Regions from separate parts of the Homo sapiens genome. Here region 2 is linked to region 1. Evidence: fine-mapped expression QTL. A gene starts in region 1. The other region holds a variant in brackets. All regions are shown on one strand. Distances are from middle to middle. Region 1 holds the start of SLC17A9 (solute carrier family 17 member 9). Region 2 overlaps TCFL5 (transcription factor like 5).

The links. PIP is the estimated chance that this variant, and not a neighbour inherited with it, causes the effect.
Region 2: its variant is fine-mapped to the expression of SLC17A9 in whole blood (TOPMed, PIP 0.99).

Annotation. Positions count from the first base shown.
Region 1 is chr20:62,948,501-62,961,584 of GRCh38, forward strand. It overlaps SLC17A9 (solute carrier family 17 member 9), which reads left to right and starts at 4,209. Exons shown (of 13, transcript NM_022082.4): 1 at 4,209-4,389; 2 at 8,265-8,462; 3 at 8,941-9,080; 4 at 12,004-12,103. The coding sequence starts at 4,331. RefSeq lists an enhancer at 3,619-4,448 and silencers at 4,000-4,319, 4,330-4,429.
Region 2 is chr20:62,841,663-62,856,252 of GRCh38, forward strand. TCFL5 (transcription factor like 5) reads right to left here. Exons shown (of 6, transcript NM_006602.4): 5 at 12,354-12,495; 6 at 1-435. The coding sequence ends at 313. It also overlaps the pseudogene DPH3P1. Among named protein-coding and RNA genes, the nearest start is that of TCFL5, 13 kb to the right of the region's middle. RefSeq lists an enhancer at 5,875-6,169. The variant A/G (reference allele first, on the strand shown) is at 4,924.

The DNA of each region.
Region 1 (13,084 bases):
CCTAAGGGTATTTTAATAACAAATACTGATGCATTTGTATTGAAAGTTGATATCTTGGAATGGAAGGACAGAAGAAAGCTCGCCTCTTGGAACTGTAGTTGGCTCTCCTCTCACTCTGACAGTGCTGCCCCTTTTAGTTTGTAAATCTGTACTTGGTGTGTTTAATTTGAAACCTATCGGCTGCTCTCTTGACTGGGGCACTTAATGTTTCATAAACTAATTTCCTTGGTGTGAAGGAAGTAGAACTTTTGAGCTACCCACTGCATGATTTTAAACTGATTTTAATAGCCTAAGTAATTACTCTTTTTTTTTTTTTTTTTTTGCTTAATGAAATTTTCCAAACATATTAAAAACAGAGGGAATACGCCAGCACATCCCAGTATCCACCAGTCAGCCTGACACCCACCACCACCTGCCAGAGCCCCAGGCAGGAGATAACTACAGGTGTCTGATTCTGGGTGGCTACCATGCTTTCAGGGCCATGAGCGTCTTCATGAGTGGAAGGCAGTTGTAGGGTTCTTGGAAAGGACTCAGACTGACCCCTTCAAGGGCCTGAGGTGAAATTCAGAAACTGCCCATGCAGAGAAGCTGAGCAGCGGGCATCATGGAGCGAGGCGTTGAGAGCTTGCATGTTTGTTGGGTATCAGAGAACAGGGAAGGCCTCTCCTCACCTGCTGCTCCTCCCTATGTGGCAGTGGCATGTCACAGTGTTCTTGATGTTCACACACCTGTGCCAGTCCATTAGCCTCACGGGTCAGAAGGCAGCACGGTAGTTCTTAGTGGAGGTGGGCATCACCAGGAATGCTTCAGTGTGAGCTCCCACACTACAGTCTGGAGGCTCACACCATCCTTGCACACATGGCCTTCCTGTCTTAGATATTCTGCCTTATTTTGGAATGCCATCTTTGCTTGTGGTTTTTCACTTCTGTTAAAGTAGAACATGGGGTTTGAATGGGCCTTTGGTGTAACTAGCTATGGCAAGAATCTTTTAAGAGATGTGCTCTTTGGAGATACAATGTCCTGAGCTTGTTTGCCTTTTCCAGAAGCCACAAAATGGCTTTGAAGATAAACAGGCCCATGCTACAGAGCCACCGGCACAAGGCACCTGGTGTGCAGGAGCTGAGGTGCAGCCTGTGGTTAATTGATAATAATCATGTCCCCACATCTGCACAGTGGGGGCTGTTTCTCTCATTTCACACCCCAGTATCCACCAGTCAGCCTGGTGCATGTGTGCGGGGAATATTTAAAGGGAATGTGACGTTCTGATTTGTCTGTAACATTTCAGTGTCACCTAGTTCAAGGCCAGGTTTACGGGTCCAAATTGTCCATAGTACAGAAGACCATTTATCAGGTGAAGCCCGTAAAGCCATAGGCACAGCTATAACCAAAAGAATTCATGAAAGGAGTAACAACTGAAGGTGAGTGGGTTTCCTCATGTTTGTAAATGCAGGTCACGTTGCAGGCTCTTCCGCCAGCTGTCCGTCCATGCAAGGCAGTTGGTCACCCCGCAGGCTCACTTCGGAGATGAAGAGTGCTGGGTGCAGCAGCGCCTCCTGTCCTTGGGTCTCTGTGTATTTGAGGTGGAATTGATGAGCTTGGGAACCAGGGAGAAGCGGTGGAGCTGCTGTTGCCTTGAGCTGCCCGTGTCAGGCAAGGTCTCCGCCTGGCTGTGACTTCTGCTTCCTGGAGACACATCTGTAGGCGTTCCTCACACAAACAAGGTTTTCTCCCTCTTGTGGATCACGGTGTGTGACTGACAGCTTTGGTAATTTTCCCAGCTGGCTTTGAAAGTGAAGCAGGCTGACCCGTCACCAAGAATTCTCTGCCATGGAGGGTCATGGAAGAACGGGAAGAGGTGCTGGCGGTCACAGCAGCCCAGGGTTCGTCTGTGCTCGTTTATAGATTTGTGTGCCCATCCAGTCCTCACTGGGCCCTCCCAGTTTTAGAAATGTTGAACACTAGTGCTTGTAAGATTCGAACAATGAGTTTACCAGCTCTGAGAAAAATGAACTGCTCCAGAACCTTCAAGAATGTTTCTCTGTATCACGCCCACATCACACCGAATCCATTTGTCGTCATTGCAGAGTTCATCTTTCTGGTTTTGAGCACCATCTCACACAGTTCTTTGTCTTTTTCCAGTCTGCTGTTGACTGGGTTAGCTCAGCCCGAAAGGTGCCCCCACCTTTGAGGCAGTTCCCGCACGTGATGTCCAGTACCGCGGTCTTCCCTCTTGCTGCTGCCTGTCAGTCATGGCAGAGGAAAGTGTCATCTGTCAGTCTCCTTTTCATGGACTCCTCATCTTGAGAATTGTAGTTGGGCTGGAAGGTTGCAGGGCTAAGTGGGGTGCAGGGAGGAGCCCCAGGCCCAGGGCTGGCTTGTCTTGGTTTACAAGAAGCTGTGCGGGGTCTCCTGGGGCGTCTGTGGGGGGTGTGGATGCAGAGGCTGAGCAACGGGCGCCATACGTAGTGAGGTGTGGATTTGCTTTAGGAAAATCTCTAGCATCGTCTCCCTATAGCAGCACTTGAAATAAACAAGAAGTTAGGTGGGCCAGGCCCAACAAGAGGGAGGCACGCAGCCTTCCAGAAGCAGAGGCCAGTGGGTGCTGGCTGTGACTGCCCTGTCCGCAAGGTCACCCTGTGTCCTTGAAAACCCAGGTGTTGACTGTCTATTGTCCCTACATAATTTTTCACCTTAGGCCTCAAAGATGCTTGGGTGCGGGGCAGCTCTCAGAATCCACCAGAAGCGTGGAGAGCCTCCATCTGGCCACTACCAGCACCCAGCTTTATAATGTCCCTGTGAGATGGCCCCTTCACCCACCCAGCCATCCCTGCATGGCCCGTTTCTTCAGCTCATCCAGCCTTCACTCAGGTGTCCAGGGGTGCCTCCTCAGCCCAACCTATTTGAAGTAACACCCCTTCCCTACCCCTTTCACTACTTTGATTTTTGTCTACCTGCCCCAGAACATCAGCTCCAGGAGGAAGGGGACTTTGGGTAACCAGATGGCAAATGTCTGCTGCAGCATGATCACAGATCTCGGTAGGAAATCACCATCACAGAGTGAATGGAAGCGAATCACCTCAAAGAGGGTGCTGTTGACAGCGATACGTTTAGCAACAGTTTCCAAACTTCCTGGCTATGGGCTAGGGCTGTTTGGGGCAATAAACCTCTCTCTGCCACCATCTTTTCACCTACCCTACGTCAGGATGGATGAAAGTATGACCTTGCTTTTCAGGGTGCCCGTGTCTTTCTGTTCAGAGGGCCCTGGGAGCAGGCCCTGCAGTGCAGTGGGTTGGGCTGTTGGAGACCTGAGGGCTAGGGGGAGGGAGGGGGTAAATGTGGGTCTGTTCTAAGTGCAAGGCCCTGCCTTAGACGTGTCTCCCTCGGCCCCTGGGTGGTGGCTGCTGCGTGGAGGATGGACTGAGGTGGGCCCTAGTGGAGGTGGGGGCAACGCCTGAGGAGCAGGCCCTGCCGCCTCCTGGGGAAAGGCTGCATGGTTGAGGCCTTCCCCTGCTGGCTTCATCCTTGGCATGGCAGCAGGAGCACACAGAGTGGGGGCCCCACCCCGTCACCCCTGCCCCCGAGCCCAGAACCTGGCCTGTGATGGGTCCTCAGGACACCTTTTGTCCAGGAACCCAGGGGCCAATGACAACCTTCACAGGCATCTGCTGAGAAGACATGGGCCAGCGCTGGATTTGTCCAGCTCTCCCAGGCTTGGTCCAAGGGCTCAGGAGTGGACCCATCCCTGCCCCGAAAGATCCATTTTAAAAATCAGTGACCCTGTACTTTTACTCTCTTTGCACTTGGTTAAGACTTTATCCCTGATTTTATTTGATCGGTAAGGCAGGGACTGCCATCATTCCCCATTTTATAGACAGAGGACAGACGGCCCCATGGCTCCGTGTCGTGTCCAAGGGATGGGCTGGCACCTCTTGGACCAGGCTTACCACCAGGGCCCTTCTCTGAAGCCCCAGTCTGACCGGCCTGCTGCTGGGAATCCCCCTCTGCCCCCACACTAACCTCTGCTGGGGCTGAGCCAGGGCGCGTCGGACAGTCAGGGCGACCCAGCCAGGGCGACCGTTGGCCCCGCTCCTATGGGGCAGCAGGGACCGACGTCAGCAGGGTGGGGCGGGCACCCGAGTGGTATGCCCCGCCCTGCCCCGCCTGCCCGCCCTGGTGGCCGTCTGGGGGCGACAAGTCCTGAGAGAACCAGACGGAAGCGCGCTGGGACTGACACGTGGACTTGGGCGGTGCTGCCCGGGTGGGTCAGCCTGGGCTGGGAGGCAGCCCCGGGACACAGCTGTGCCCACGCCGTCTGAGCACCCCAAGCCCGATGCAGCCACCCCCAGACGAGGCCCGCAGGGACATGGCCGGGGACACCCAGTGGTCCAGGTGTGGCGGGGGTGAGGGGAGGGGGGGTGGGAGCGGTGGAGATGGGGCCGTGGGGAGGGAGCTGAGATACTGCCACGTGGGACGATGCTAGGTGGGGAGGGCTGAGCTGGGCGGGCTCCTCTGGCTGTGGGGCCCCCTGTGTTCCTTGTGGGAGGTGGAAGGAAGTGAGTGCCCTGTCCTTCCTCCCTGCCATGAGATTCCAGGACCGGACCTGGCAAGTGCCCTATCCCAGCCAGTGTTCCTGGGGCTCTTCCAGGCAGGGCTATGTTCCCCAGGCCAGGGGCATTGTCCTGGACAGTCAGGAGGCATACCCCTCGCCAGGTGGAACCACCCTGTGTATGCATGACCCTGACAAGCAGGCGCCAGGACAGTCAGGAGGCCAGGTAGGGGGCACGGGCTGGAGCCTGCAGCTGGACGGGGTTGGGGGGGGTCCTGCCACCACGTGCCAGCTGTGTGCTGAGGACGAGCTCCCCGCTGGCTTCAGCTCTCGGAGCATTTGGTGGTGGGGAGAAGCAGGGCCTGGGCAGGTCGCCTGGCCACCAGCACTGCTGCCTGTAGGAGGCTCCCTGGGCAGGTGACGCCTCAGAAACCGGGCGAGATGGTGACCGCGGGCCATTGGTCAGCTGGGGAGGGCCTCTGCCAGGGAGCTCCTGAGAGCAGCCCCCACACTGCTGAACCCCTTGGCTCTGGGTCTTGGGCTGAGGCCTTAAGTGGCTGGACCCTGGGCCTAGACTCAGGCCCTGTGGGTTCCAGAGCAGTCTCCTGCCTGCACTGAGTCCCCAGGGTACCTACCCTGACCATGGCAAGGTAATGGCACCTTCTGGCCCCACCAGTTCCCAGCTGTATGAGGGCTGAGGACCCTAGAAGTGCTGGGAAGAGTTGTAGGAAGGCCCAAAGGGGCAGTGCCACCATCGGATGTTGGCACCCAGATGAAGGGAGCGCTGGCTGCATGGGAAAAGCTGGCAGCCCAGATCACAGCCCTGTCAGGCGCCAATTAGAGGGGAGGGCTGCCCTCAGCGGGCCCTGCCCCTTGCTCTCTTCCTCTTCCCCCACCCACGTTCATCCAGGCCTGCCGGGCAGGGCCAGCTCCCCAGGGATTCAGGGCCTCCTCACTGGCGGCTGGTTTGAGTGGCTCCGCCTTCACTACGTCCCTCCCAGGCTCGATGTTTAAAAAGGAGCCCTTGCCGCAGCCTTCACTACGTCCCTCCCAGGCTCGATGTTTAAAAAGGAGCCCTTGCCGCAGCCTTCACTACGTCCCTCCCAGGCTCGATGTTTAAAAAGGAGCCCTTGCCACAGCTCTTCAACTTCCTTTGCAGGCCCTTATTGGGTAGCGCCAAGGATTCTGGAGGGGCCTGTGGGTCAAGGCTGCCACACGCACGCCTTTTCCTAGCCCGCCCTCCTGCAGCCACATCACAAAGGCTGGGCCAGGCGAGAACAGAGCTGGAGGGCGGCACCCACACTCTCCGGTTTGCTGCTCGCCTGGCCCGGCCCCGCACAGTTCCCTTTTCTGAATGGAGGGGCCATGTGACCACCTGTTTGCTCAGCCGTGGATGCTGCTTCTGCACAGGGGCCGTTTGCTCTAGAAAGTTCACAGGAAGCAGGCTGCTGGGCTCAGGGAGTGCAGAGTGGTGGGAGGAAGCTGTTCAAGCTGCCCAAAGCTTTCCGGTTCTTGGCACACCCCCCGTCCCCCGCGCCCCCAGCAGGATGGAGGATTCCCAGCCTGGGGTCCTAGTCAGGCCTCAGGTAGCCGACTGTCTGGGCCATCCTCTCCAGCCTGACATCCTTGTCTCCCCGGCAGCTGTGGAGGGTGCCCCTGTGCCCACCTGGCCAGCACCACCTGCCCAGCTCAGAGAAGGGGCTGTGGCTGCCGCCTGCCACGTAGGGCAGATTGCTTGCCTGGAAGGGCTGTTCTTGACTTCCTCCTTCCAAGGAGGCCCTGGAGTGGCTCTGTGTTCTCAGTCCTGTGCTGGCCTCAATGGGGGTGAGGATCAGTGCAACTGAGCTTTCTGCTGTTTCTAGCTAGCGGCCAGGCAGTGCGGGGCAGGTGCCACCTGGACACAGGTCCCCCACCTCCCCCCCTTTCTTTTTCAAGACAGAGTCTCTCTCTGTTGCCCAGGCTAGAGTGCAGTGGTGCAATCTCGGCTCACTGCAACCTCGACCTCCTGGGCTCAAGCGATCCTCCTACTTCAGCCTCCCAGCTGGGACCACAGGTGCACACCACCACACTCAGCTAATTGTTGTTTTTTTTTCTTTTTTTTTTTGAGATGGAGTCTCGCTAGGTGGAGTCTCACTCTGTCGCCCAGGCTGGAGTTCAGTAGTTTGATCTCGGTTCACTGCAACCTCTGCCTCCCAGGTTCAAGCGATTCTCCTGCCTCAGCCTCCCAAGTAGCTGGGATTACAGGCACCCGCCACTACGCCTGGCTAATTTTTACATTTTTAGTAGAGATGGGGTTTCACCATGTGGGCGAGGCTGGTCTCGAACTCCTGACCTTGTGATCCTCCCGCCTCAGCCTCCCCAAGTGCTGGGATTACAGGCGTGAGCCACCATGCCCGGCCCTGGCTAATTTTTAAAGTTTTTTTTTGTTTTGTTTTGTTTTTTTTTGTAGAGCTGAGGATGTCCCCATGTTTCCCAGGCTGCTCTTGAACTCTTGGGCTCAAGTGATCTGCCCACCTCGGCCTCCTAAAGTGCTAGGATTACAGGCATAAGCCACCGTACCTGGCTCTAAAGCTCCTTTTTAAAGGCACCTTTGGACTGTGTGGCTTTTAGTGGAAAGTTAAGGGTGGGGGCCCCCATGTCCCTTCTGCAAGCCTCGTGTGTTAAGTCAATGAAAACTGTTTACAGAGAGCCTGGGGCTAGGTAAACAACAGGGCTGCGGGTATCAACCACGCCAGGACAGGGCGTGGAGGCCAGGGCTGTACTGGGTTAGGCAGCCTGGCAGTGAGGACTGTGTCCTTCTGTGGTAACCCAGGGAGCAGCCAGATATGGGGCAAGCCAGTTGTCCCCAGAGTGGAACCTGGCTGCAAATGACGCTGGCGAAACCACACTCACTGCCAAGTTCCAGGACAGACAGCACTTCCTCCCACACAACTTTCTCCAAACTCCAGGGGTTAATGGTTGGCCCTGCCGTGGGGAGGGGCTGGAGCCAGGATAGCCTCTGGCAGAGCAGGAGGTGTCAGAGGACGCAGCTCTGGGCTGCTGGAGTGACCTGTTCTTGCCTCTGAGATCTCGCCCGGCCTCCCTCACCAGGATTGGGAGTGTGAGCTGGCCGGCCTGGCTCTGTGACCTCGGGCATGGTCAGTGCCCGACTTGGTGGTCTTTTCTCCCGTGGGAAGCGTCTAGGCGCAGACTTGCAGAGAGTGCCGAGAAGGCCGTATACCTGCCCCTCTGTCCACAGCACACCGTCATCCACTCACTCATCTGGGGCAGGTTCTTGGGAGCACACACCCGGGGTGCAGCCAGCTCCCCGCAGGGGCAGACAGGACCTTTTGGGAAGGGTGGGGTGAGACTCTCCAGTGTCCGACTCCTCTGCCACCCATCTCCTGGTCACCCTCTCCCCTGTTCTCTTTGAGGGGAACAAGCAGGGCCCGGCCCAGGCACCTTTTGTGGGGATGAGTCGTTGCTGTGACCTGCCCGAGTGCTGGCCACTCAGTTGCTCCCAGGAGCCACTGTGCCTCATTTCTGGCTGCCTGTGTTCTCCCAGGGGTCAGCAGATAGGTGCGATTAGGTGTTTGAATGCTTGCCAAGTTGCCCTCCATCAAAGCTGTCCCCATTCACAGTCCATGTCCCCCAGCCCTGAGGGAGGTCTCTGAGTGATGAACTCGAAGCAGCAGGGCCGTGGGGCCTCCCCAGGGCCTGACCATCTCCTGTCCCACAGGCCCGAGTGCCAGGCATGGACGGGGACGCTGCTGCTGGGCACATGCCTTCTGTACTGCGCCCGCTCCAGCATGCCCATCTGCACCGTCTCCATGAGCCAGGACTTCGGCTGGAACAAGAAGGAGGCCGGCATCGTGCTCAGCAGCTTCTTCTGGGGCTACTGCCTGACACAGGTTGTGGGCGGCCACCTCGGGGATCGGTAACTGCCCATCTTCCCCATCTCCTGGCTGGTGGGGGCCGCCCCACTGGGGCCTCCAGGGGCGAGTGGGCTGGCTGTGCTGCTGCACGCAGAGGATGCGACTCCTGGGGAAGGAGCTTGGTGGACACAGAGGATGCGACTCCTGGGGAAGGAGCTTCGTGGACACAGAGGATGCGACTCCTGGGGAAGGAGCTTGGTGGATAAATCTGGGCAGAAGACCCCCCCAGAGGAAGATGGGAGCTGGGAGGGGAGAGGCCAGGCTTGGCAAGGCCCCAGGGCCCTGCAGGCAGAGGAGGCAGGCCGCTCCCCTGGAGTACCTGGTCTCCTCACGAGGCAGCTCTGGGGTCATGAGCAGGCCCTGTAGAGGCAGACAGGCCAGGCCCAGCTCTGAGCACCCACTCAAGGGCTGCCCTGAGTCAGGGTGGTGCCCCTTGGTCCTGCACAGCCACATCCTCACCTCCCTCTGTCTTCCCTCCAGGATTGGGGGTGAGAAGGTCATCCTGCTGTCAGCCTCTGCCTGGGGCTCCATCACGGCCGTCACCCCACTGCTCGCCCACCTGAGCAGTGCCCACCTGGCCTTCATGACCTTCTCACGCATCCTCATGGGCTTGCTCCAAGGTAAGGGGAGCTCAGGCGGCTCCCTCACGCTCTCTGGCACCAGGTGGGGAGACAAGGGGGGTGTGCACGGATGTGTGTGCAGGTGCATGCGTGCATGCAGGTGGTGTACAAGTGTGTGTGTATGGGCATGCCCGCGTGCATGCGTGCACCTGTGTGTGTGTGCGTGTGTAAGTGTGTGTATGGCATGCCCGCGTGCATGCGTGCACCTGTGTGTGTGTGCGTGTGCAAGTGTGTGTGTATGGGCATGCCCGCGTGCATGCGTGCACCTGTGCGTGTGCGTGTGCAAGTGTGTGTATGGGCATGCCCGCGTGCATGCGTGCACCTGTGTGTGTGTGCGTGTGCAAGTGCATATGTCCCTGCAGACACGTGTATGCAAGCAATGTGCATGTATGTTTGTGCTTGTGCGTGTGCGTACGTATGTGTGCATGCACATGTGTGAGCATGCACTTGTGCGTGCAGGTGGTATGCATGCGTGTGCATGCCTGTATGCATGTGTATGTGTGTGTGCGTTCCTGTATCCATGTGTATGTGCGTATGCGTGCCCATATGCGTGTGTACGTGCGTGAGTGTGCCCGTATGAGGGTGTACGTGTGGCCATGTGTGTGCCTTCTGTAGGTGCACACTCTGCAGTGATACACAGGATCACAGGGGGCACCTGTGTAGTGAACTTGCCCCTGCCCCTGAATTTTGTCACCAAACGCCTTAGTTCAGTGGTGGATTCCAGCTGCAAGGGACCTGCTGTGGGACTCTGGGTTTTGTGCATTTTGGTCACACGTATGCTGATGATGCCTCCGATACTAGGGCCTTGGAGCGCCTTAACTGTCAGGAGAACAAGGTGGGTGGGGGGGCCAAGGGGGCTTTGAGGGGCCCCTACTTGGCTGGGGTCCCCTGGAGAAACAGCCAGGCCTCCAGCCTGCAGGGGCCTGCTGGCCCCAACCCAGCCTGCCTGGCCACCCCACCCATCAGCAGTTCCCTGCCTGGGCCACTCCTCCCCCAGTGTCCTGGGCCATCCAGACCCCCCACTCAGGACTCCCCCTACCTTCCTGAGCCGGCATCAGGTTCAGAGCGCTGGCCATGGCTCCCCTAGAACCTCTGCCCTCCCTCTCCTCCAAGTCCAGAGACTTTGGGGAGTTCACTCCCAGGCCTCGTTCTCCTCCCTCTCCACACCCTCACTCCCCAAGGTTATGGCCTGGAAGGTGCTGCCTGGGACTGTCTCCATAACAGAGGAAGGGGGTCTGCCCAGGAGAGAGGCCACTCTCATGGTCACGGGGTGTCACATGAGAACAAGGGCCCAGTGCATGGCCCACCCTCAGAAGAGGGTGCAGCGAGTGCAACTGAGGACTTAGGATTGTGTGTTTACTGTGAGGCCCCATCCCAGAGCCAGCCCCTCCAGCATCACCGCCTCCCCAGGCACTGCCCAGGTCCCACTGCAGGAGCTGGAGGAGGAGGGGAGGAATGAACGAATCGGCAACCACCTGGAGGGGAGGACAGGCCTGGCGGGGGGTGGGGGCCCTCATCTTTGTTTACTGGAGGGTCTTCGGGGTGAGGGAGGAGGGTCCCAAGGCTGAAGCTGTGAGGAAAACAGTGGTGCTGCCTCGGACTGGGCTGACCAATGCCTCTAAGTGTCGCTGAGAAGACCCTCGGCCCTGGGGCAGGCGGCTGTCCTCGTGGGCAGCTCTGGGGACCCAGCAGGCAGCCAGACCCCGTAGGCTCGCTGCCGCTCCAGCTGCGCTTCCTCTGCGGGGCCCAGCTTGTTGTGCTACGATGACTTGGCACCTGAGGCACATTCTGTTTTCTAGAAACCTTCAAAGTCTGGCACGTCTCAATGTCAGATGTCATCCTGTGCCCATGAGCCTACTCTGGGGGTCTGGGGGGCAGCAATGGCGGCTGCGTGGTAACGGTGGGCACCACCTGCGGCTGGCTTTGCCGTGTTTGTGCACGCTGTCTTCGGGCAGAGCAGAGACGCCAGGTGTCCCAAGACCTGTGGCTCTTGCTGCGGGGCATCGGACTTCTGGAGGGAGCCCCAGGAGCTCCGCCAGGCGGCCCCCAGCCTCCCTCGAGGGAGCGAGGGAACGGGCCCTGCCTCTGAGCCGTGAGCCTATGAGTGAGCGCTCTGCGGTTAAAAGTTACAGGCGCTGGCCAGGCAGGCGCTTCCTGTGTGTGGCCGTCTGTTTGACGATGCCCCCCTGCAGGGTAGCATCAGCGCCCTGTAGACACGGCCCGTGGGTTTGGGGGACAAGCTCCTGTTGTCACCGTGGCTCCGCGGTGCCTCCCCTCGCAGAGTCCCTCCAGGTCAGGCTCAGAGCCCTCTGGATGTGGAGGAGCTGCATGGGGTGGTAAGGTGGTTTCCAAACTTCTAAAGCGGCTGAGAACACTTGGTCCAAAAGAAATCCTGGGAGGAAGCTCAGTTTATAAAACAGGGAAGGGCAGCTTTCTTGGGGGAAGTATGTGTCTGTGCACGCATGCGGCAGGTGTCTGTGCACGCAGGTGTGCATCTTCATGCGTATGCGTGTATCTGCATCAGTGTGAGCACAATGCAGCACTGCCAAGAAGTGTGCCGGTGAACACGTGCGTGTGCAGGCGCATGTGTGTGTGTTGGTGCGAGGACTCTAGAGCACAGCTGGAGGCCGGTGGTGAGAGTGTGCACATGTGCATGTGCGTGTTCGCGGGGTGGGAGGGCTAGCTTGGAAGCAGGGGTGTTTCCCTCAGCCGTGCGGGTGGCACGACCCTGAGCGAGCCTCACCCAAAAGGAGTCTGTTTCCTCAGTGGCACCAAAAGCCCTGCCCTGCTGGTCCCTCGGGTGGGGAGGTGAGCTAGAGGGACAGGTGGACGTCCTCTGGAATCACAGCCCAAACCTGAGCAGATAGGCCGGGAGGAGCCTCCCTGGATGGACCCTGAGAGACCCTCCCTCCACTTGTTGCAGGGGTTTACTTCCCTGCCCTGACCAGCCTGCTGTCGCAGAAGGTGCGGGAGAGTGAGCGAGCCTTCACCTACAGCATCGTGGGCGCCGGCTCCCAGTTTGGGTAAGTCCTGGCCTAAGACGGGGCCCAGGAGAGGCCACCAGGTGAGCCCCTTGCCGAGTGGCCCCTGGTCTGCGTGGGGGATGGGCCACATGGGCTTGCAGGGCCACCATGGTGAGGTGGGTCCCGCAGGCGCCTTTTGGGCTCTGTAGCCCGAGGCTGTGCTCTGCAGGTACCAGCCCCGGGCACCGCGCTTGCTTTGTGCATATTTCTGCCTTTCTGGAGTGGCTGGCAGGTGATGAGGCTGGGACTTGGGGACATGGGTTGGAGGAGTGGCCACATCATCTCATTTTCTTTCATCTGTGCTAACGATGCCAGATGCCGTCCCCACCATCCGCTGGCCCCCACCCTCGACAGGAGAGTCTGTGAGCGCAGGAGCGTCTGGGCCAGGGTGGGCCTATCAGCTGGCTGGAGGGCGGCTTGTCCTCAGGGTGGGCCTATCAGCTGGCTGGAGGGCGGCTTGTCCTCACGGTGGGCCTATCAGCTGGCTGGAGGGCGGCTTGTCCTCAGGGTGGGCCTATCAGCTGGCTGGAGGGCGGCTTGTCCTCAGGGTGGGCCTATCAGCTGGCTGGAGGGCGGCTTGTCCTCAGGGTGGGCCTATCAGCTGGCTGGAGGGCGGCTTGTCCTCAGGGTGGGCCTATCAGCTGGCTGGAGGGCGGCTTGTCCTCAGGGTGGGCCTATCAGCTGGCTGGAGGGCGGCTTGTCCTCAGGGTGGGCCTATCAGCTGGCTGGAGGGCGGCTTGTCCTCAGGGTGGGCCTATCAGCTGGCTGGAGGGCGGCTTGTCCTCATCCACGATGCGGCAACCCCGTGCCCCTCAGTCCTCCCTCCCTGCGCCCGCTCCTTGGGGAGCTCCAGACCCTCTAGCGATGCTGGCGGCCTGGATCGAGGCCAGGCCAGGGGTGGGAGGCCTTCCCGGTGGTTGTAGCAGGGTGGATTGGTGCAGGAGCTGACCGGGGCTTCCCAATCACTGGGCTCAGGCCCTC
Region 2 (14,590 bases), 110 kb before region 1:
TTATCATGTTAAGAAAACATGATGGAATCAGAGCATTGAGAAAATGCTTACTAATTATTACTAATTAATTATTACTAATTATTAAGATGGCTTCATCCCCAAATGGTCTAAGAGGACATTCATGGATAAGCATTTGCGTCTAGATAAATATTTTTACAAAATGTGCTCTCAAAGTCCCTACTGGAGTCCCGTCAGCTTGAGTCACGCCCTTTTCGAGTCAGACTAGCCGAGCAGAGCTCCAGGGTTGCAGAAGGCGTGCACAGGTCACGAAGGAATGGCTGTTCACCCCCCGAGGATTCCTGTTCAGTCCGATCACTTGATCTCCATCGAGGGGCTGCTCTGTAAACTCCCCTGTGCAGGACAGGTCACCAAGGAGTCCGGTCTGGTCAGCTTTAGCCTTCGGCCAGTTTTACCGCAAAATACGCTCTCAAATTCCTGCAGTGAAGAAGTGACGGTTAACATACTGAATTAACTGACATGAAAACTGCTGTCTTCCAAAGTGCAAAAGGTTCAAATTAAGAGCTAAGTAAATGACTTTAGAATACGCTGTTTTAAGGTGTCATTCACAAACTTGTGTCTTACCTCACAAGGGGATTTATATAATAAACAGATTTTAACTTTTTTTTTTTCAAATAGCAGTTACACTGTACATGTACTTTTGTTTTTCCAATACTCAGAATGTCTGGCCACACTGTATTGATTTTATTGTGGTAAAATATACATGACATGAACGTTTCAACCGCTAATGGGCCCTAGCTAATAAACCTGTAAACCCAGCGTGTGAGAGAAGGTAGAGTGTATATATTAAAACGTTTCAGGCCGGGCGTGGCGGCTCACGCCTATAATCCCAGCACTTTGGGAGGCCGAGGTGGGTGGATCACCTGACGTCAGGAGTTCAGGACCAGCCTGATTAACATGGTGAAACCCCATCTCTACTAAAAATACAAAAATTAGCTGGGCGTGGTGGCAAGCATCTTGTGACCCCAGCTACTTGGGAGGCTGAGGCAGGACAATCTCTTGAGCCTGGGAGGTGGAGGTTGCAGTGAGCCGAGATCATGCCATTGCACTCCAGTCTGGGCAACAAGAGTGAAACTCCGTCTCAAAAAAATAAATTTTTAAAAAGTTTCAACAATTAACAAGTCAGGGGCATCTACCCCCACCCCAGGGCGACTGCCTTGCCCTCTGCACTGCCACACACTCAGGGTTCCAAGGCCAGCAAGGTGGAGGTGCTGCTCGCTGAGATGGCTCTGTCCTTGGGGAGACCCTGCCAGCAGGGTGGGGGTGGGCTGAGCTTGCTCCTGTCACACCACCTGTCTTTTACAAAAGGCCTCAATTATAATGGTGGGGTCAGTCTCAACCTCCCGAAGGAGACTGAGAGGAAGAGAGGGGCACAGGCGACGGCCCGATGACAGGCGCCAACCACCACGGGCAGAATGTGGAAACGTCTACGGGACAAATCATTCCCTTTTCAACAAATGAACGGTGAGGAAGAAAGGAAGGGGGAACTATTACGGGTTAAGATATATTTAAAAACTATCAACCAAATGTGATGTTTGGATCCTGATTCAAATGAGCTGACCGTAGAGACACCTGTGGGCTCACGGGAGATTCTGCTCAGATTCGGGAAGGAGACTCAGGTGGGTAATAAGGAGTGAAGGCTTTCAGGAAGGAGACTGATAATGCGGTTGTGTTTTTAAACAGGCCTTTTCTTTCGGAAGATATATTTATGAATGAAATGATGTCTGGAATTGTTTTAAAATAATTCAGCGGGGGTGGGAGGGCGAGGGGATAGGTGAAACAAGCTGATGCCTGAAACTGAGTTAGAGGGACCTGGGAGTTCACTTTCTATTTCTGTGCAGATTTGAAAATTTCCATAAGTTGGTTTTAAAACATAGCATTCTACACGATTAAATCCAGGTTTATACAGTTTTTATTGTGGTATTAAAATATAGCATAAAATTTGCCTTTTAAGCATGTGTAAGTGTACAGTGGAGCAGCGTGAAGTCCACTCACAGTGCTGTGCAGCCGCCACCACCTTTTCATCACCCTAAACAGAAACTCCGTACCCATTAAACACTAACTCCACACCGCTCCGGCCCCCAGCCCCTGGCACGTACCAGTCCACTTTCTGTCTCTCTGAATCTGACGGCTCTAGGTGCCTTGTTTACGGAATCCCGCAGGGTGTGCCCTGTTGTGACTGGCTTATTTCACTCAGCATAATGACCTCGGGCCATCCATGCTGTAGCCTGTGTCAGAATTTCATTCCTTTTCATGGCTGAGTAAGATTCTGTTGTGTGCTTGTAACACATTTGTTTACTCATTCCTCTGCTGGAGCACACTTGAGTCATTTCCACCTTTTGGCCACTGTGAAAGGTGCTGCCATGAATATTCATAGAAAAGCATCCATTTGGGTCCCTGTTTCACCTCTTTGGGGTTTATGCTTCTCTGGTGATTCTATGTTGAACCTTCTGAGGAGCTGTCATACTGTCTTCCACAGTGGCTGCACCATTTCACACCCCCAGCGGCAAAGCACAGGGATTCTGATGTCTCCACATCCTTGCCAACACTTGCTATTTTGCTTTTGTTTTTGTTTTTGAATAGCCATCCTAGTATGTGTAAAAGTAGTATCTCATTGGGTCTTGATTCGTATTTCCCTAATGACTAACGGCTTGGCGCATCTTTCATGGGCTTATTGGCCATCTGTGTATCTTCTCTGGAGAAATGTCTATTCAAGTTCTTTGCCCATTTTTCAGTTGTGCTGTCTTTTTTTTGGACAGGGTCTTGCTCTCTCAGGCTGGAATGCAGTGGCACATCCACGGCTCACTGCAGGCTCAGCCTCCCGAGTAGCTGGGACTACAGGTGCACACCATCACGCCTGGCTTTCAACATTTTTTTTCTGTTTTTTTTTGTTTGTTTTTTGTTTTTTTTTTTTTGAGACCGAGTCTCACTCTGTCACCCAGGCTGGAGTGCAACAGCGTGATCTCAGCTCACTGCAACCTCCACCTCCCTGCAACCTCTGCCTCCTGGGGTTCAAGCAATTTTCCTGCCTCAGCCTCCTGAATAGCTGGGATTACAGGCACCTGCCACCACACCCGGCTAATTTTTGTTTTTTTAGTAGAGACAGGGTTTCACCATGTTGGCCAGGCTGGTCTCAAACTCCTGACCTCAGGTGATCCACCCACCTCGGCCTCCCAGAGTGCTGGGATTACAGGCGGGAGCCACGGTTCCCAGTCTGTGTAGTCTTTTTGTTGCTGAGTTGTAGTAACTTTCTACTTAATTCAAGTCCAGGAGGACACAAGCGCCATGCTGCCATGGATTTAACTTCTGAACCACCTGGAGTGACTGGAACATTCCACCCATCCACTTTTAAGCAACTTTCCAACCAAGCAAGCTGCCATTTCCAACTACTGTGTGCACTCAGAATCTACACCTGCATATAAATATACTCATTTTCTTCCCAATTTTTTTTTTTTTTGGATATGGAGTTTCACTCTTGTCGCCCAGACTGGGGTGCAATGGCACGATCTCAGCTCACTGCAACCTTTGCCTCCTGGGTTCAACTGATTCTCCCACCTCAGCCTCCTGAGTAGCTGGGATTACAGGCATGTACCACCACGCCCGGCTAATTTTTGTATTTTTAGTAGAGACGGGGGTCACACCGTATTGGCCAGGCTGGTCTCGAACTCCTGACCTCAGGTAATCTGCCCACCTCAGCTTCCCAAAGTGCTGGGATTACAGGCGTGAGCTACGACGCCCAGCTTCTTCCCAAATTTTAAAAGGTTTTAGGATGCAATTTAAAATGACCCCACATTTTGATAATTTCCTATATTCTGACACCTAAAGCCTACATATAAAAAACACTTGCCTATTTGGCAAGATAGAATTCACCTTTCAGGACAATTAAATGAAAGTCAGAGCCTGGGCCGGCTCCGGAGAAGTTAGACCCTCGGAGCTGGTCTCGGACTGCTGGGGCGTCACCCCTTCAGCAACCCCCGCTGACCATGGCAGTATTTCATGACGAGGTGGAAATCGAGGACTTCCAATATGACGAGGACTCGGAGACATATTTCTGTCCCTGCCCATGCGGAGATAACTTCTCCATCACCAAGGAAGAGCTGGAGAATGGGGAAGGTGTGGCAATGTGTCCAGGCTGCTCTCTCATTATAAAAGTGATTTATGACAAAGATCAGTTTGCGTGTGGAGAAACAGTGCCAGTGCCTTCAGTCAACAAAGAATGAGTTAAATGCTAAGGAAGCCTTCAGGAATCCGAACCCTGAACAGCTGGAAATGAGCCCAGATAGAAACTTCAAATGCAAAGCTCCTGGCTTCGTGGAGACACAGCCATTTGTGATTTGCTGTTCTGTAGGCGTGTTGTGGATTCTTTCCATCAACTGCTGATTTCATCTTCAGGAAGCAAGTCCATAACATGACGTATCTGGAGTTTGTGCTTAGAACCTTAAATTGGAAGCATTCTTAATTATCCATCTAAATTTAAAAGACGATAATTTAAAAAAAAAGAAGGAAGGAAGAAAATAATCATCCTCAGACATAACTAGGCGCTCGCAAGATCTTCTGAACTATTTTCACACAGTGATGAGGCTAGTCCCGGCGTCTGCCTTCACTATGAACAGTTGGGCAGAGGCAGGGTTGAGTTGTGGTTCCATCTGGACCCTTGCAGGGCCCGCCCACGACCCGTCTCCTGGGAGCTGGGGCAGCTGTGAAAGAGAGGAGCAGATCCCCTTAGTCCTCCTCAGCTGAGCCCAGGCCAAAGACGTGGTACTGATGTCATCGCACTCTCAATCTGCACCTCAATCCAAATGCATCTATTTGCAACAGAACATATGTGAAATCGTTGAGTTTTAAAGGAATTTTTATAACATCAAAACATTGAGATGACAACGTCCCAAAGCAGATACTCATGTT[A/G]GATTTGTGAACATGAGAAGAATAACAACAAGACGGGTGCGGTGGTGAGGGGCGCCTACGGTCCTAGCTACTCGGGAGGCTGAGGCAGGAGGAGCACCTGAGCCCAAGAGGACGAGGCTGCACTAAGCTGTGGTTGCACCGCACTCCAGCCTGGGTGACAGAATGAGGGCCCCTCGCTGGGAAAAAAAAAAAAAGAGAGAAAGAAAAAGAAAAATAATAATACCAACAATAAAAAAAATTTTCTTAGTAAGAAAAAAGAAATAGCTCTAACTATGAGTCAGGAAAATATACCAGGAAGTTATTAAGAGGAAGAAAGCGGCCGGGTGCAGTGGCTCACACCTGTAATCGCAGCACTTTGGGAGGCCGAGGTGGGTGGATCACCTGAGGTCGGGAGTTCACGACCAGCCTCACCAACATGGAGAAACCCCATCTCTAATAAAAATACAAAATTTGCCGGGGTGGTGGCACATGCCTGTAATCCCAGCTACTCAGGAGGCTGAGGCAGGAGAATTGCTTGAACCCAGGAGGCAGACGCTGTAGTGAGCCAAGATCGCGCCATTACACGGCAGCCTGGGCAACGAGTGAAACTTCATCTCAAAAAAAAAAAAAAAAAATTACAAGCTATTTAAAACTGAGAAACAATGAAAGCATTGTGTCCTAACCTGTGAAATGTTTCAAAAGCACACCAGGACAAATTTACTATAATGCATTGATTAGAAAACAACATAGACAAAATAAACTTTCAACCCAAGATACCAGAAAAAAATAAAACTTCAAGAAGGAAATAATAGAAATAAGGTTTTGGGATAATAAAGATAAGAGCAAATTATGATGGAAAAAGCACTACCACTGACCCCACATAAAAAACCAACAAAGTGAATGACTGAGCCCCAGAAAGACTCCAGCACGGCCCAGGCCAGAGGGGTACAGCAGACCAAGGAGCTCAGGTGGCCAGAGGTAAGGAGGCATAAACTCATTAGGACAAAAAGAATGGCTTTTCTTTTTCAAGATGCTTTATTTTTAAAACAGGTCACAACACAGCGTTCGGCTCATTCTGCCACGAACAAGCTACAAACGCTTGCTCTGCAGCCGAGAGGCCCTCCAGTGGCCATGTTCAAAAACAGAATGAAAATCCGTATGTAGGCCAGGCGCGGTGGCTCACGTTGGTAATCCCAGCACTGTGGGAGGCCGAGGCGGGCGGATCACCTGAGGTCAGGAGTTCGAGACCAGCCTGGCCAATATGGCAAAACTCCATCTCTACTAAAAATACAAAAATTAGCTGGGCGTGGTGGCGTGACCAAACGGCATGGGAGGCCATGATCACAGGCTGCTGGGAATGGATCCAAGAGAGGATGAAGTGGCTCAGGAGGTACAGACAAGCGCCGGGCAGCCGGGCAGCCAAGGAGAGCAGAGAAATGGGCGGTTGCCAGTACAGGACACGAGGTCCAGGGAGTTCTCACAGAAGGATCACGGGAGAAGTCACAGCGTGTCCGCAGGAAAGGAGGAGAGAAGGGACAGGCCAGTCCGAGTCTGCAGCAGGGCCTGACAACAGACAGCACGTGAGGGACAGCGACACCGGGGCCTGATGCAGATGGCAGGGAGATGCGAAGCGGGACTCAACCACCTGCTGGTGTGAAGAAGGGAGGGACAGACACCACAAGGGAGGCCCCAGGAGTGGCTGGCACCTTCAGGGCCCCCAGCGTGCAGGGGCATCTCACAACTAAACACAACCAGCGCCCCAGACGCCATCCCGACTGGGGAAAAAGTTGTAGTGGGCACTATTGAGACAGCAGGCAAAATGTGAATAACAGTCTTGCACCAATGTTAAATGTCCTGATTTTCATCGTTGTGGATATTAAAAAGTCAACACGGGGGCCGGGCACAGTGGCTCAAGCCTGTAATGCCAGCACTTTCAGAGGCCGAGGCGGGAGGATCACCTGAGGTAAGATCGAGACCAGCCTGGCCAACATGGCGAAACACTGTCTCTACTAAAAATACAAAAATTAGCCGGGCGTGGTGGGATGCGTTTGTAATCCCAGCTACTCGGGAGGCTGAGGCAGGAGAATCGCTTGAATCCAGGAGGCGGAGGTTGCAGTCAGCCGGGATCACGCCATTGCACTCCAGACTGGGTGACAAGAGCGAGACTCCGTCTCAAAAAAAGTAAACACTGGGCCGGGTGTGGTGGCTCAGGCCTGTAATCCCAGCACTTTGGGAGGCTGAGACAGGCGGATCACAAGGTCAGGAGTTCAAAATCAGCCTGGCCAACATGGTGAAACCCTGTCTCTATTAAATACAAAAATTAGCTGGGTGTGGTGGCTCAATGGTAATCCCAGCACTTTGGGAGGCTGAGGTAGGCAGGATCACTTGAGGTCAAGAGTTTGAGACCAGCCTGGCCAACATGGTGAAACCTGGTCTCTACTAAAAATACAAAAATTAGCCGGGCATGGTGGGCCATGCCTGTAGTCCTAGCTACTCAAGAGGCTGAGGCAGAATTGCCTGAACCTGGGAGGCAGAGGTTGCAGTGAGCTAAGATGACACCACTACACTTCAGCCTGGGCAACAGAGCGAGACGCCGTCTCAAAAAAAAAACACGGAAGTATTTAAGTATAAAGAAGCATGGTGTCTGCAGCTTACTATCAAATGGATCCCAAAGATACCTGGAGAGAAACTGGGACCGGCAGGGAGAATGGAGCAAACCCGGACAGGCCTACAAAGAGCTCTTTGTACTGTTCTTGCAATTTTTCTGTAAGTTTGAAATTACACCAAAATTTAAAATTACCAACAGTAAATAGAGCCATCTAAACCCAGAATGTGGGGCATTCTCTAGACAACCGGCCTGATCTCTTCAAAGCCTCAATGCCATAGTTAATAACTGTGGGGGGGATTCTTGTAGCTCAAAGAGCTTGAAAACTGTCATCAAATGCAGTGCATAATCCATGGCTGGGTGCTGGACTGTGGAAAAAAACAGCTATGAAAGTCATTTTTAGAACATTTTGGCTGGGTGTGGTGGTTCATGCCTGTAATCCCAGCACTTTGGGAGGCCAGCCTGGGCAACATAGCAAGACCCTATTGCTACAAAAATTAAAAAACTAGTCAGGCATGGTGGCTCATGCTTGTAATCCCAGCACTTTGGAAGGCTGAGGCAGGAGGATCACTTGAGCCCAGAAGTATGAGACCAGCCTGTGAAACATGGCAAAACCCCATCCCTACAAAAATAAAATTAGCTGGTCATGATGGCACACACCTGAAGTCCTAGCTACTTAGGAGGCTGAGGCAAGAGGATTGCTTGAGCCCAGGAGGCAGAGGCTGCAGTGAGCCATAATCATGTTACTGCACTCCAGCCTGGGAGACAGCAAGACCCTGTCTCAAAAAAATAAAACAAAACAAAATAAACATTAAAATAAAAAAATTAGGCAGGTATAGTGGCAATAAAAGAACATTTTGGGCAAATCTGAATAGTCTGTGCATTAGAGGATATGAAAAAGACTTATTATCTTGGGGAGGCATGATCATGGCACTGGGATTCTGTGGAAGGCCTGTCTTGGAGATTTATGTAGAAATATTTAGAGATGAAGGTTCGTGTCTATAATTGTCTTTGAAATTGTGCGTGTGTACAAAGTAAATACGGTAAATGTTCATTGCTGAGACTGAAGCATGGGTGTACAGGTGTTCACTGTAATTCCTATGTTCACTAGAAAACGAACAGAAGTGAATCACTGATGGCTGACGCCGCCCTGCCCTCACCCCATACTTATCTATCCCCTGCCTCCCGATGTCCCCACCTGACGCCCCCAGAATGCCGAGATCCTGCTTCTCTGAGTCTTCCCTCTCAGTAAACAGCCCCATCCACCCAGCCACCGAGGCCAAACCCTGACGCCTTTTTCCCATCACAACCCCCAACTGGTACCGCCACAAACACAAGAAGCCTTGTGCCTTTCCTCCTCCCCAGCGCCGCCCCCTGGCAGCCATCGCCCGGCAAGCCACATCTTCCAGCTACTGCAGACTCCTGGTTTCCACTCTCACCCCAGCCCAGCTCCTACTCCCTAGCATCCAGTGTCCCCCAGCAGCAGGGTGATATGGGTCATGTCACTCACTGCCCAAAGACTGCCGAGGCCCCCAACCCTCAGGACTAGCGGTCCACCAGGCCCCAGCCTGCCCCGGTGCCCTGCCCAGCAACACTGGCTGGCAGGCAGGCACTCCTCAGACTCTGCAGCCGGCAGGTCCTGGCTGCCAGCTCCCTGTCATCATTGGGCCTTGGTTGGGCGCCTCCCTCGACCACCCAACATCACCCAATCCAAAGCAGCCCCCGAGTCCGGCTGGCTCGCAGCAGCACCTTCCACCCGCAAGGCCCTGCTCCCACTGTCTTCACGTTTACTCGTCCCCTGCCTCCCTCCATGCCAGACATGCCTCTATCTTGCGCAGGGTACCCCAGCACCTTCAGCAGTGCCTGGTCACACTGGAAAAGACCTGCTGAGTGAAATGTGTACCAAAATAATGTAGAGAAATCACTTAAAACTCTCATGTATTACGTCTTCAAGGACAAAAATATGCATCCAAGTAAAAGGGGGCAGTCACTAAAGAAACAATTAAGAACCCATGTGTTTCGGCTTTTTATGTTCTAATTCCCCGAAAAAATTGTGAACTGACTTGACCTCAGCCTGTTTCTTGGTGGGTCTAATAATGTGACCCAGAAGTAATCAGATTCAATGTAATTACATTTAAGAAATATTCAGCAAACATAATGTATGTAAAGTATCATATCCATAAACATTTGGTCTACTTAATCTTTGACTATACATACAATTAACATTTTTTAATTTCAAAAATTATAAATGCCTTCGTCTTGAGTAAATCAGATCAATAATGATTTACTAATAGATACACAAAGCCAAAACATTAAAGCATTTTTTAAAACACAAAAGCTTTATTTTATCAAAACAAATCAACAGTCTACCTCTAACAATAATCTTCAAGAGTAACTGCATTGTAAATAACCATAAACGATCCGATCAGAATACATTCAACATAGCATCGCTATAGAATGCAATTAAATGTATAATGTAAATAAACAACTTAAATTATGCAACTCGCAAGATGTAAATGTCATGTGGACACAGAAAAGGGACAGAGACAAGACAAACTATTGCCTGGCGCTGAAGAGACGAGCCCTCACTCAACACAGCCCAGCTGCGGGGACCTCTCTCTAGCCCCACCATGACGTAGACACAGGAGCCCTTCTTTTGAGATGGAGTCTCGCTCTGTCACCCAGGCTGCAGTGCAGTGGTGCTATCTTGGCTCATTGCAACCTCCGCCTCCCGGGTTCAACAATTCTCCTGCTTCAACCTCCTGAGTAGCTGGGACTACAGGCGCCACCACGCCTGGCTAATTTTTGTATTTTTAATAGAGACGGGGGTCTCATCATGTTGGCCAAGCTGGTCTCGAACTCCTGGCCTCAAATGATCCACCCGCCTCGGCCTCCCAAGTGCTGGGATCACAGGCATGAGTCACTGCGCCAGGCCTGGGAGCCCTTCTTGGAAGAGGTCCTTGTTTGTTGCAGCAACCTTAGTTTGTTCTCTAGTCAGACTCCTGCCTGGGTCAACAGCAGCAATTCCCCAACAGCTTGGACCAGGTACAAAGTCAGGACCCTGTGGATCTATTTCACTAAGGTCTGCTCACTCCTAGAGGGCCAAAGAGCCACTGACCCTGGCCACTGCAACGCTGAGGCCGGGACCTGGAACTCGGGTCCCCCAAAGGCAGGGCCCAGGACCCTGGAACTCGGGTCCCCTGAAGGCAGGGCCCAGAACCCTGGAACTGGGGTCCCCCCAAGGCAGGGCCCAGAACCAGCCCTGTGACTGACACCTTCTTCCTTTTAGGCCACTGAGGGGCTGACTGAACTCCTGCATTCAAATCACACGTCTAGTTCCAGCCAACCACGATGGCTTGCTGCAGGCCACTGCCACGACCACACAGACAGGATCACGGCAGGCTGGCTGTCCTGAGGGACTGCATATGCTGGCGCTAACACGCCGGCTCCTCCCTAGTCACCCAGTCCACAGAAGTATATTCACCCGGTCCACAGAAGTATATTCACCCGGTCCACAGAAGTACAGTCACCCGGTCCACAGAAGTATATTCACCTGGTTGACAGAAGCATAGTCACCTGGTCCGCAGAAGTATATTCACCCATTCCACAGAAGCACGGTCACCCGGTCCGCAGAAGTATATTCACCGAGTCCACAAAGGTATAGTCAACCAGTCCACAAAAGTATGTTCACCCAGTCCATGGAAGTATAGTCACCCAGTCTGCAGAAGTACATTCACCCAGTCAGCAGAAGTATATTCACCCAGTCCGCAGAAGTATAGTCACCTAGTCCGCAGAAGCATGGTCACCCGGTCGGCTGAAGTACATTCACCCAGTCCGCAGAAGTATAGTCACCCGGTCCACAGAAGCATAGTCACCCGGTCCACAGAAGTACAGTCACCCGGTCCGCAGAAGCACAGTCACCGGTCCACAGAAGCATAGTCACCCGGTCCACAGAAGTACAGTCACCCGGTCCACAGTATAGTCACCCAGTCCACAAAAGTATAGTCACCCAGTCCACAGAAGTATAGTCACCCAGTCCACAGAAGTATATGCACCCAGTCCACAGAAGTATATGCACCCAGTCCACAGAAGTATATTTCTTATTAACCTGCTGGGCATATTTGAAGTCCAGATCAGACTATTTGACACTTATCTGCATTTTTGTTTCTCTTTCTTTTTTGGGGTGGGTGGGGGTGGGGCAGGGTCTTGCCCTGTTGCCCAGGCTGGAGTGCAGTGGTATGATCTCAGCTCACTGCAGCCTCGACCTCCCTGGCTCAATTGATCCTCCCTCCCAGCCCCCGCCCCGAGCAGCTGGGACTACAGGCATACGCCACCACACCAGGTTAATTTTTGTATTTTTTAGTAGAGATGGGGTCTTGCCATGTTGCCCAGGCTGGTCTCAAACTCCTGGGCTCAAGAGATCCTCCCACTTCAGCCTCCCAAAGTGCTGGGATTACAGACGTGAACCACTGTGGCTGGCCGGTTTTTGTTTTTCTATTCTTGCTTTTATCCCTTTCACAAGTTTTTCTGAGGGCAAATATCATGTCCTACACACCCGTCAGCCCCAGTGCAATATACCGTACACAGCAGGTGCCCAATTTGCTATCTGACAATTGCCTCTTCACAGTTATTTACACACTGAGTGTAACACATGTAGGCTGTGACTATTACTTTAATAAATGACAAGTTATATCATTAAAGAGCAGAGCTTTGCTCATACTGGACTTAGTATTTGATGTTAGATTCCAGGAAACAAAGGATAGTTTGAGTTATCCTTAGGAAAAAGGAGGGACATTGTTAAGTAAAATTTGTAAAATTCTGAAAATCTACCTGGCCTACCACTAACCTTTTTAAGAGAATCTCCATGTCTTTCCTGGATGTATTTCAGGAATGCTGTGGTCCACTGCAGAGTTGTGGCCTTGTCAGTCTCGGCATTGCAGAACGGCACTAAGAGATTCAACTCATCACAGCAAATGCGGATTCTGCGCCTATAGTCAAAACCCAAAGTCATCACCGAGAGAGACCGGAGCAAAACAAACATGTAAAAGGAAGCGTCTCCTGTAGTACTTGAGGGAACCAGAGCTCGTGCATCCTGGCCACTGAGTGCCACGGAAGCGCCTGTCACCACAGGAAGCCCCACGGCTTTGCCACGGCCTTGTCTACAGAGGCAGCCACTGCCTTCCAGAGGCCAGAGCATCCTCGGGTGCCCTTGGCGGCCCCATGACCCACAAGCTCCCTGGAGCTTTCCCTCTTTACTTCTCACGGGCCAGGTTCAAGTCTCTAGATTAGGGATGGCTCCAAAGCCCCTGAAACTGGAAGCAACATTTTGTGTCTGACACCTTCTTCCATTTGGACCACTGAGGGGTCCAAATTGGGCAGATAACTCTGTCATTCAAGACTGATATTACTTGCCCTTCACGGGCTAAATACCCTACCAGGAACTCGTGCACAGCTTTCTCCAAGGGGCCCTGATTCAGAAAGGATCACGGCCCAACACTCTGTTAATATTCTGAAACTTGGTCTTTGTAGAGATAAACAATTGGAGTCTTGTTATTAGACTATTTTTTAAACTTTTACATATTACATTCAGTAACATGCAAAGTCCTAAACAAGCAGATACTGAGCAACTTATTCAATATGGCCCTTGTTACTCACCTTCACACCCGTCTATTTAGAACTTTAATTAGAGACTTTGCCAGTAAAACAGCAGCTGGCATTTACTAGGTGCTTTTGGACTTCTAGACATTGAGCGAAACACTCTTTACACATCAGCTCACTGAACTCTAACCACAAGTCTACGCAGTAGAGCTAGAAGTCCAACTTTCAAACTGTCAACGTACGGTGTAAGGCTTTCCACATAGCAGGTACTCAATAAATGTCTATTAAATAAATGTCGGAGCAAAATGCCCTTCATAATTCACAGTAGGGTGAGGAAGGCCCTCAGTTAGTCCATGTGTATAAAAGTATCATAAAAAGATATTAGCTAGCTTTTTAATTTTCTTTCTTTGGGGGATGGGTCTCACTTTGTGGCCCAGGCTGGAGTGCAGTGGCATGATCACAGCTGACTACAGCGCTGACCTCCCAGGCTCAAGTGATCCTCCCACACCTCAGCCTCCCAAGTAGCTGGGGCGACAGGTGTGCAACACCACCACTACTAGTATTGTTGGTTTTTCTTTAGAGACGGGGACTTGCTATGTTGCCCAGGCTGGTTTCAAACTCCTGGGCTCAAGCAATCCTCCCACCTCGGCCCACAGTCATGAGCCACTGCACCCTGCCCCAGCAAGTTTGAATAGATCCCTTTAAAAGAAATTGCCATGCCAGGCGCAGTGGCTCAAGCCTGTAATCCCAGTACTTTGGGAGGCCGAGGCACGTGGATCACCTGAGGTGAGGAGTTCGAGACCAGCCTGACCAACATGGAGAAACCCCTCCTGTACTAAAAATACAAAATTAGCTGGGCGTGGTGACGCATGCCTGTAATCCCAGCTACTCAGGAGGCTGAGGCAGGAGAATCGCTTGAACCTGGGAGGCGAAGGTTGCGTTGAACCGAGATCGTGCCATTGCACTCCAGCCTGGGCAACAAGAGTAAATCTCCATCTCACCAAATAAAAAAATAAATAAATAAATAAATTGCCTTAGCTCAACATTCAACCTTGGAGCTTCAAACCTGAGTATTTGTCTCACTCACTGTTATTTATTTCCTGAACTTAAAGCAGAAACTGGTACACAGTACCAGTACTCGATACATTATGTAGTTAATTAATTATAGATTAGGGAAATATTCTATGAAAACCCAATTATAGGCCGGGTGTGGTGGCTCATGCCTGTAATCCCAGCACTTTAGGAGGCCGAGGCAGGCGGATCACAAGGTCAGGAGTTCGAGACCAACCTGGCCAATATGGTGAAACCTCATCTCTACTAAAAGGTACAAGAATTAGCTGGGCGTAGTGGCGGGTACCTGTAATCCCAGCTACTGGGGAGGCTGAGGCAGAAGACTCGCTTGAACCTGGGAGGCGGAGGTTGCAGTGAGCCGAGATCATGCCACTGCACTATTCCAGCCTGGGTGACAAAGCAAGACTCCGTCTC